Linked DNA regions of Homo sapiens: all the other regions are linked to region 1. The links come from fine-mapping of genetic effects on gene expression. A gene starts in region 1. Each other region holds a variant in brackets. All regions are shown on one strand. Distances are from middle to middle. Region 1 holds the start of NIPA2 (NIPA magnesium transporter 2). Region 2 holds the start of CYFIP1 (cytoplasmic FMR1 interacting protein 1). Region 3 overlaps NIPA2 (NIPA magnesium transporter 2).

Region 1 (2,846 bases):
CACTGCACTCCAGCCCGAGTGACAGAGCAAGATTCCATCTCAAAAAAAAAAAAACAAAAAAAAAAACTATATATAGAGCTCTTAGTTTTCTACGAAATCTTTACTACCTGGTTTCCACTGCTATCTAAGTTAGCTTAGGCCCGGCTCGGTGGCTCACACCTGTAATCCCCGCACTTTGGAGGCCAAGGTGGTTGGATCGCTTAAGTCCAGAATTAGGAGACCAGCCGGTGTAACATGGTGAAACCCCGGTTCTAAAAAAAATACAAAAATTAGCCAGGCATGGTGCCGCACGTCTGTGGTCCCAGCTGCTGGGGAGGCTGAGGTGGGAGGAGCACTTGAGCCCGGGAGGCGGAAGTTGCAGTGAGCCCAGATTGCACCGTCTAGCCTGGGGACAGAGCAAGACCTTGGCTCAGAAAAATTAAATACATGTTAGATTTAATTTTTTCCAACCTCTCACTTGGCTAATAATTTTTCAAAGCAGTACTGTACTTATAAATATTACAGAACCTAAATCTCCAACCCTAACTATGCAACAATATTAGTTATAAATTACAATTTTAACTTACATGTAAGTTTAATATGGTCTCTCTTATGAAAAAAAGGCTGGGAGAGGTTAGAGATGACTTATTCACTCTCATTTCCTCGTAAATACCACCCTTTATTCTCATTTAAAGTCTTAAACCCTGGCCGAGTAGCTCCAGCCTAGAAAGAAGAAAACACAGAAGTAGGCAAAAGACTTAAAGTTACTAAGTACGTTTTATAATTTGGTTACTAGCCTTCATACTCATTTTGCCAACCAATCAACATAAAACCTACTCAATCGAGCACAACTACTGCTTCGACAGGCAGCTTACTGGAATGGAAACTCTCGACTCTGATATTTCCTCTTACTAAAAAAAGTATTAACCGGGCACATGGCTATACACAGGATTTCTAGAAACAGAACTTAACATGCAGTCCTGTATTAAATGAACTAACAACCTAGAAAAGAAATTAAGGAGGCACAAACACCAAACTAAACACACAGTTTTGAGCAATTGTATAGAGAGGGAAATAGGATTCCGTGATTTTATAAAAGGAAATTAAAACAGTCAGGCTCAAAACGTCACAGCAGACTTCTAAGGCTTGTTTAACTGTCAGTTATGATCCCCGCAGCAGCTGAAGCCACCTTCTAAAACTCACCAAGACAAATGAAATTATTTTAATGAACTTAATGAACATGCGTCCCCGACATGGCCAACGAGCCAGGCTTCCGTGGGACTGAACGGCAATCCGATTCACGGTGGGTTTCCTCACTGAGGATTACAGGAAAACCGCTTCAGAACACCCGGAAAGGAAAGTTGCCCGAAGAACCCTTCTCCGACACAAGGCGGGCTGGCTCGCCACCAAGTCAGCCCCTTCGCGCTTGCCTGAAAGGAAGGAGTGGCGACCTCACCCTAGTCGGCCGGCCGGCCGCGCGGCTTCCCCTCGCCGGCGCAGCCTTGGGCACCGCGGCTCACACCCCCACACAGGCCGCCCAGTCCTGCGCTCGCACGGCCACCGCCTTCGTCGCCGTCCAGTGGGAGATGCGAGCATTCGGGGCTGAAGCCGTTCGCACCGCCTCCTCCATGGAGAAGCGCCGAGGAAAACCTGCCAAGGACAACCTCCGGCACCGCCGTCACCACCGCTGCCGGGACCTAGGGCCGGCGCCGGAAAACCTAGGCGCGGCTAAATGACGCAAGAGGCCTCGCGCGCACGCGCAGTGCCGCACCACGTACACCCCGCCCCCGGGGCTCTCTCCCGCCGGGTTCCGGTTCCTTTACAAGGCCCCAGTCGGCTGAGCGCGGAGGGCGGGGCGCGTAGAGTGTGGGGACGGGGGCGGGGCGCAGGATCCAGGCGGGACCTGGCGAGGGACGAAGCTGGAAGCGTAGTTAAGCAGTACAGTATGCTGCCAGGTGGCGTTGGCCGATCAGTTCAAAATCAAACTCCGGCGTGGCCCTTATTTAAAACGAGGATTCCGGGCCCGGCGCTGTGGCTCACGCCTGTAATCCCAGCACTTTGGGAGACCAAGGCGGGCGGATCCCGAGGTCAGCAGATCGAGACCATCCTGGCTAACACGGTGAAACCCCGCCCCTACTAAAAATACAAAAAATTAGCCGGGCGTGGTGGCGGGTGCTTGTAGTCCCAGCTACTCGGGACACTGAGGCAGGAGAAGGGCGCGAACCCGGGAGGCGGAGCTTGCAGTGATCGGAGATCCCGCCACTGCACTCCAGCCTGGGCGACAGAGCGAGACTCCGTCTCAAAAAAAAATAGAATAAATGAGGGTTCCGGCCGGGCGCGGTGGCTCACACCTGTAATCACAGCACTTTGGGAGGCCGAGGCGGGCAGATCACGAGGTCAGGAGTTCGAGACCAACGTGACCAACATGGGGAAACCGCATCTCTACTAAAAATACAAAAATTAGCTGGACGTGTTGGTGCGCGCCAGTAATCTCAGCTACTCCAGAGGCTGAGGCAGGGGAATCGCTTGAACTCGGGAGGCGGAGGTTGCAGTGAGCCGAGATCAGCCACTGCACTCCACCTGGGCGACAGAGCGAGACTCCTTCTCAAAAATAAATAAATAAATAAAATAAAATGAGGGTTCCCAGGGGCAGTCACAGTGTGAAGCTGCATTTAATTGGTGTCCCCGGGCGATGCCAAAGGGGAACAGAGCTCCCAAGAGGGCAAGAAGCGGGGGAAAGGGTGGGTCCAAAGCTGGGGGCGGGACGGGGCGGGGCCGAAATAGCTGTGGTAGTTCGACGACCGCTGGGCCCTTCCTTACTGACCCGGTCGCGGAATAGATGTGAGGTTGACGTTTGGTGAAAGCCC
Region 2 (2,846 bases), 140 kb before region 1:
AATATTGAGTCAACTGGTAGATTGTCTCAATCCGCTGGTCAGGATTCATTTGCTGCTTTTTGCCTTACCGCAGAGCACAAGCGGGGGTAACCAAACCTTCATAATCTAGAGACCAGACTAGAATATCTGATGCCCATCCTTACTGTTCTCCGTAAGAACCAGGGGTCGCGGATGAATGGGGAGTGAGGTTGCTGCGGCTGAGCGGGGCGTTTAGGGCAGTTTTCCTAAACACGCCTGTGACCAGCTGACTCCACTCAGCGTTTCCGTGTGAGGTATGTTTCTTCACCGGCCTTTCAAGATTGTTTTTTGGCACGAGCTCAAATCAGGTTTTCTTCCGTCCGCCGTTCCCGCAGGTCTGCGCACGGATTTGTCCCTGGTTCCCGCAGGCAATGGGGCCGCAGGGGCCGGCCGGGGGGGTCCCCAGCGGGCTCTGCGCGCCGACCTGCAGCTGGGACCCGCGCCTGGAACCCTCCCGACGAGCGCAGGTGAGCGCCTCCTGCCAAGTGGGGCGGCGCCACACGGGCGTCCTGGGTGTCCCCCTGAGCTCCTTCCGCAGCTCAGGCCAACCCCCGCCCTGACCCGGTGGAGCCCCGGGACAGGGTGCGGACCCCGTTCCTTCGCGCTCCGAACCGGACGGACCCGCAGGAGGACCCCACGCCCGCTCCGCTCCGACCCCGCCGTCCCGCGCAGGCTGCGGTGACCCAGGCCGGCAGGTAGCCAGGGGCTCTCTGCCTGGGAGGACACCTTCGGCGGCTGGCGTGGGGAAAGGGGCCGCCCGGCCGGGGATGCCCCGCCAGGAGGAGGGAGCGGCCGGGGCCGCGGCCGGGAGGGAGGAGCGCCGGGAGGAAGAGGCCGAGCCGGGAGAGCCCCCGCCCCGGGAGGAAGGGGAGGAGGCCGAGTGTTTCCTGGCGCATTCCCGGCCAGCCCGAGTGACTCACTCGGCCAAGGAAACTCCCAGGGCCCGCCCAGGACCCCCAAGCCGCCGCGGACGCAGGTGAGGAACCCCGCTCGCCCGCGCCTGCCCTGCGGCCTCCGCGGGGTCCGGGTCCCCCTCGGAACCTGGGCCGGCCAGGGCGGCGGCGGGGCCGGGACGGACCCCCCCCTCCCCCCCAACCCCGGCGGCGCGGCCTCCCCGGCGGCGCGGCCTCCGGGATCGTCCTGGTCCCCGCGTCCCCCAGGTCCCGGCCCCGGGCTCCCGCGCCTCCCGGGCTCCA[G/A]GTCCCCGCACTCCCTGCACTGGCTTCCCGGTCCCTGCGCCCCCGGCCTTTCGGCCTCGGCCCCGAGCTCCCCGCCCCCGCGTTCACCGCCTCGCGCCCCCGGATCCCGGATTCCGCGCCCCGGCACATGGCACAGCTCCAGTGGCGAAGGAATACCTTAGTGTTTGACGTTTTTGTTGGAAAGTAAGGAGCAGGCAGATTGTTAATGTTGCACTAAGGTCGCGCAGCAAGATCTGAACCCGTTTTTGTTTCGTGCCCCTGTGAGGAGCGGAGGGAGCCTGGTCCGCGGAGCCATTCCGGGCATTCTTGGAGAGAGGAGTTTTGGGCTTTGTTAAGGAGGCGCGATCGTTACGGAGGCAGCACTGTTTCGCACAAGCATCTGAATTGTGTATTTTAAGGCTGAAATGCGTGAGCTTAATTTGCAGCACATTGTGGGTGTGACAAGAAGGGTGCAAGAATAATCGGGAAACGGGGTTGATGGAACGTGTTTTAAGCTGAGAGGGGCGTCTGGACGGTGTCAGCTCCGCTATTAAGTCCAGTCAGGGAGCGGCTGCTGATTGAGCCCAGCGCCGCGTGGTCGCCGCTGGGGACTGAGGCTCGGGAGCGTTTGTTTTCTGGCGGCGGAGGGCACCGTGGCTGCGCCGGGAGCGGTGGTGTTTCTTGCAGTCGTCCGTCGGACTCCGGAATGAGGCGTGGTCGGAGCCGCGGTGATGCCTGGTGCAGTGCGCACATTGCTATGCTTGACAGCTTGGCGGCAGAGTCCCGGCCAGGCCGGGACCCGCGGGGGCCCCACGCATGCTGCCTTTTCCCTGCGGGTGGCCAGCGGTTTTCCAAGTGATGTCTAGATCTGCAGGCACGGAGCCTGGAAGAACGAGTCACGCTGTGAGTGGGCGCGGGCCGTAGCAGGTGTGCACTCGTAGGGCCAGTAGGGATATAGTGCCGGTGCCCTCACTGCGACCGAGGCGCCCTGGAGTCGTGGCGGAGGACGTTTCCTGCGTTAAGACAGGTGTCTGTGCTGCGCTCAAAGAAAATGTACCCCCTAAGTTTGTGTGTGTGTTTAAATTTATTTTAAACTTTTAGTAAGATTCACTTTTTGGTGTTCAGTTCAGTGAGCTGTAGCAGGTGCATGGACTGTAGTGACTTCCACCGCAGTCAGGATACTCAGGAAGGCAGCCTCTCTCCTCCCCGCTCTTGCAGCCGCCTGTCTGTTCCTCAGTCCTCCTGCTTTGCCCATTCCAGAATGTCACATGTGGGCTTGGAGTCTGGCTTGTTTCGCTTAGCATAAGGCGTTGGAGATTCAGCTATGCTCTGGTTTGTCCCTGAAGAGTAAAGATACAAGGGTCTGAAAAGTGTGGCTCTCGGATACAGCCTGAGAGAGAGACTAAAATGATAAAGTGATGAGAAAAATTACAAAACTATAGTTCATTAAAAACATTAAACAGCATAGAACCGTGTATACTAAAAGTGAAATTCCCTCGGTACTTCTAAGTAGTATAATAGTCTTTTCTGTGCATAAGTAATTTTTTAAATAACATAGTGAGATCATATTGCATATATTATCGTCATACATTTTTCACTTAATGATGTTTGGTTACTTAAAGATCTTAGCAATCTTTACATGTTGATATATAT
Region 3 (2,500 bases), 28 kb before region 1:
ACCTAGGTGGAAATTAATTCTGCCAATACTTTTTTTTAAAGGCCAGTCAATGGTTATGAGTGGATAGGTTCAAAGCTGAATGGAGTTCATTAGACCTTTTTTATTATTCTACCTTTTCTGCATATGTTTGCAGTTTTCCATCGACTTCTTCATAAACAAACATTTTCTAGAAACCAAAATATGTAGTGGCCCAAAGGAGCTCTTAAGCAAAGTACTTGGTACAAAGAGACCATATTCTATAAACATGTTAAGTTTGTTCTAAGCATTCAGACTTTTAGAATAAGAACTTCATTTCAACTTTTTATTATAACATGAGCTAAATTTAAGAAACAACCCTAGTCTTCTATTTCCCAGAGCTGTTCAAAGTCTAAATGACAATATAACTCATTATGAAAATATACTGAAAAGTACAAGAGCTGATGTAAAACGGTAATCAAGGTTCCAGGCATCATGGGATTAGGGTAACTGAAGAATAAACCCAGCCAGGCTGCAACAGCAGGCAGGATGTGCTGGCTTGATGAGGTGCTAAGGCCATCGAATGCTCAGAGGAAGCCGGATTCACGGTGATCATCTCAACCTGAGAAATCGTTCCTTGGGGTGATTTCTGCCCTTTTTTTTGTTTTGTAAGAAAGAGGTTCCTTCATTCAGTAACTTAGTTTTCCCTTAATAAATATTTCAAAAATAAAACCAATCATCATCAAACAAACAGGAGCCACTTTTGTAGGTAAGGTAAATCACAGGATAATGTATTGGGATAACTCTGTTTTTTTAAAATAAAAAAGCCTTACATGGTCAGGGATTGATGGAGTGGGGATGACAAATGCACATTTCAGACTTTCATCACCAATGAAAAAATAAAGCATTTTCATAGACTTAAAACTGTCATTAGTGCATTCGGCTTTTGGAGAAGGGATGAAAATGTAAAATACTTCTACAACAATAAAATGTTAATAGAAATCGTCATGTGCTGAGGTCATTTTAGTGAGCTACCATTGTTTGTTTAAATACAAGAAAAGTAATTTCTTGGTCCAAATTAGTGAAATCTTTAAAAAGATTGCCTTTAAAGAACATTATTTGAGGACAATGTTTTTTCAGACACATTCTGATGATATTCAAATTCACTTCATAACAATCACAGATTAACCTTTAATTACACCTT[TCTTA/A]AAAAGCTGTCAGATTTCCATTTCTTCGGGAGACATTTTCACCAGTGTGTTGTTCGATTCCACAGGTTAAGCTTTCTTCATTATTATTAAGAACTTCATACATATTAGAGAGATTGCCATTCATTGCTTTCTCGTCTTTTCGAAAAGACACAGGCAGACTTGCTAGACTAAAGCTGACGTCTTTAAAGGCATGCAACAAGAATATCCCCACAATGATTGTAAAGAAGCCACTCAAAGTACCAATGACATCGTCAACAGGCATATCTTGCCACTCCTTAAAAAGAATAGCTGAACAAGTTAAAACTGATGTTGTAAAGAATACATAATATATTGGAGTCACAATGGAAGTGTTGAATATATCCAGGGCCCTATTTAGGTAATTAATCTGTGTGCTCACACAGACGATGAGGCTCAGCAGCAGAATCCAAGCCAGGGGATGCCGCAGCACAGGCTTCCCTGCAAACAGCTCCTTGATAGCAATGCCCAGGCCCTTCACACAGGAGACTGAAAACGCGCCGATTACAGAGCAGATTGTTATGTACACAAGAATGTTTGTCTGTCCATGGCGAGGACCCACCACGAAGATTAATATCAAGGCCACAATGACCACAAGGGTTGCAAAGACCACAAAACCTGGAGGAGGCAAAGAAAAGTTACATGAGTCAAATGGTTGGTTGTTCTTAAACACAGAATGCAAAACAAAATATAATAAACTTGATAGGGAGAAAAGGTATGGCCTGGAAATAAAAATCAGCTTTATTTTGCAGCCCAAGCAGAAATGCAACCACAAAAATTTACTTAGATGGACACACTGGAAGATTAATGCGAGCTTCATATTCACAAATTGTTATACCCCTAACATTTTTGCAGCAGCACTTTATGCCGACTTAAGTGCTCTAGCTCACCAGGCAAGAGGGACAGTGGGAACAGAACAGACACAGAAACTAGGGAGGAGAAACCATGAGGTGGCCTTGAATGTTCAACAATTTATAGATGCTAAAAAAAACAAAAAACACAAAAACAAGAGTTCTTCATCAAGTTTTCCCTAAAAGGGGAAACTTTTAAAATTTGTGGACAACTGCTGGAGTAACGAGCAAGTCAACTGGAGAACTTGAAAGATACTACTGGGGTTCTGGTTGAATACGGAGAATTAAATCCAGCATGATAATAGCCAACAACTGTGTAGCACTGTGGGCCAGGCATTTTTCTCAGCAATTCGCACTCAACTACCCTGTTATCACGGATACTACCACCTGCATTTTCGGATGAGGAAACTGAGGCCCAGATAAGTCACATGAATTTACTCTTCCTTCCTCAAATTCCACTAATAAAATACA

The links. PIP is the estimated chance that this variant, and not a neighbour inherited with it, causes the effect.
Region 2: its variant is fine-mapped to the expression of NIPA2 in whole blood (GTEx, PIP 0.96).
Region 3: its variant is fine-mapped to the expression of NIPA2 in whole blood (INTERVAL, PIP above 0.99). The same link has a PIP of 0.9 or more in breast, esophagus mucosa, fibroblasts, subcutaneous fat, sun-exposed skin and thyroid.

What each region holds. Positions count from the first base shown.
Region 1 is chr15:22,837,511-22,840,356 of GRCh38, reverse strand. It overlaps NIPA2 (NIPA magnesium transporter 2), which reads right to left and starts at 1,691. Exons shown (of 8, transcript NM_030922.7): 1 at 1,436-1,691; 2 at 567-702. RefSeq lists an enhancer at 1,565-1,794.
Region 2 is chr15:22,978,435-22,981,280 of GRCh38, reverse strand. CYFIP1 (cytoplasmic FMR1 interacting protein 1) reads left to right here and starts at 913. Exons shown (of 31, transcript NM_014608.6): 1 at 913-994. RefSeq lists enhancers at 648-1,616, 1,617-2,584. The variant G/A (reference allele first, on the strand shown) is at 1,215.
Region 3 is chr15:22,865,509-22,868,008 of GRCh38, reverse strand. It overlaps NIPA2 (NIPA magnesium transporter 2), which reads right to left. Exons shown (of 8, transcript NM_030922.7): 8 at 1-1,796. The coding sequence ends at 1,162. It overlaps CYFIP1 (cytoplasmic FMR1 interacting protein 1), which reads left to right. Exons shown (of 31, transcript NM_014608.6): 31 at 1-957. Among named protein-coding and RNA genes, the nearest start is that of NIPA2, 28 kb to the right of the region's middle. The variant TCTTA/A (reference allele first, on the strand shown) is at 1,160.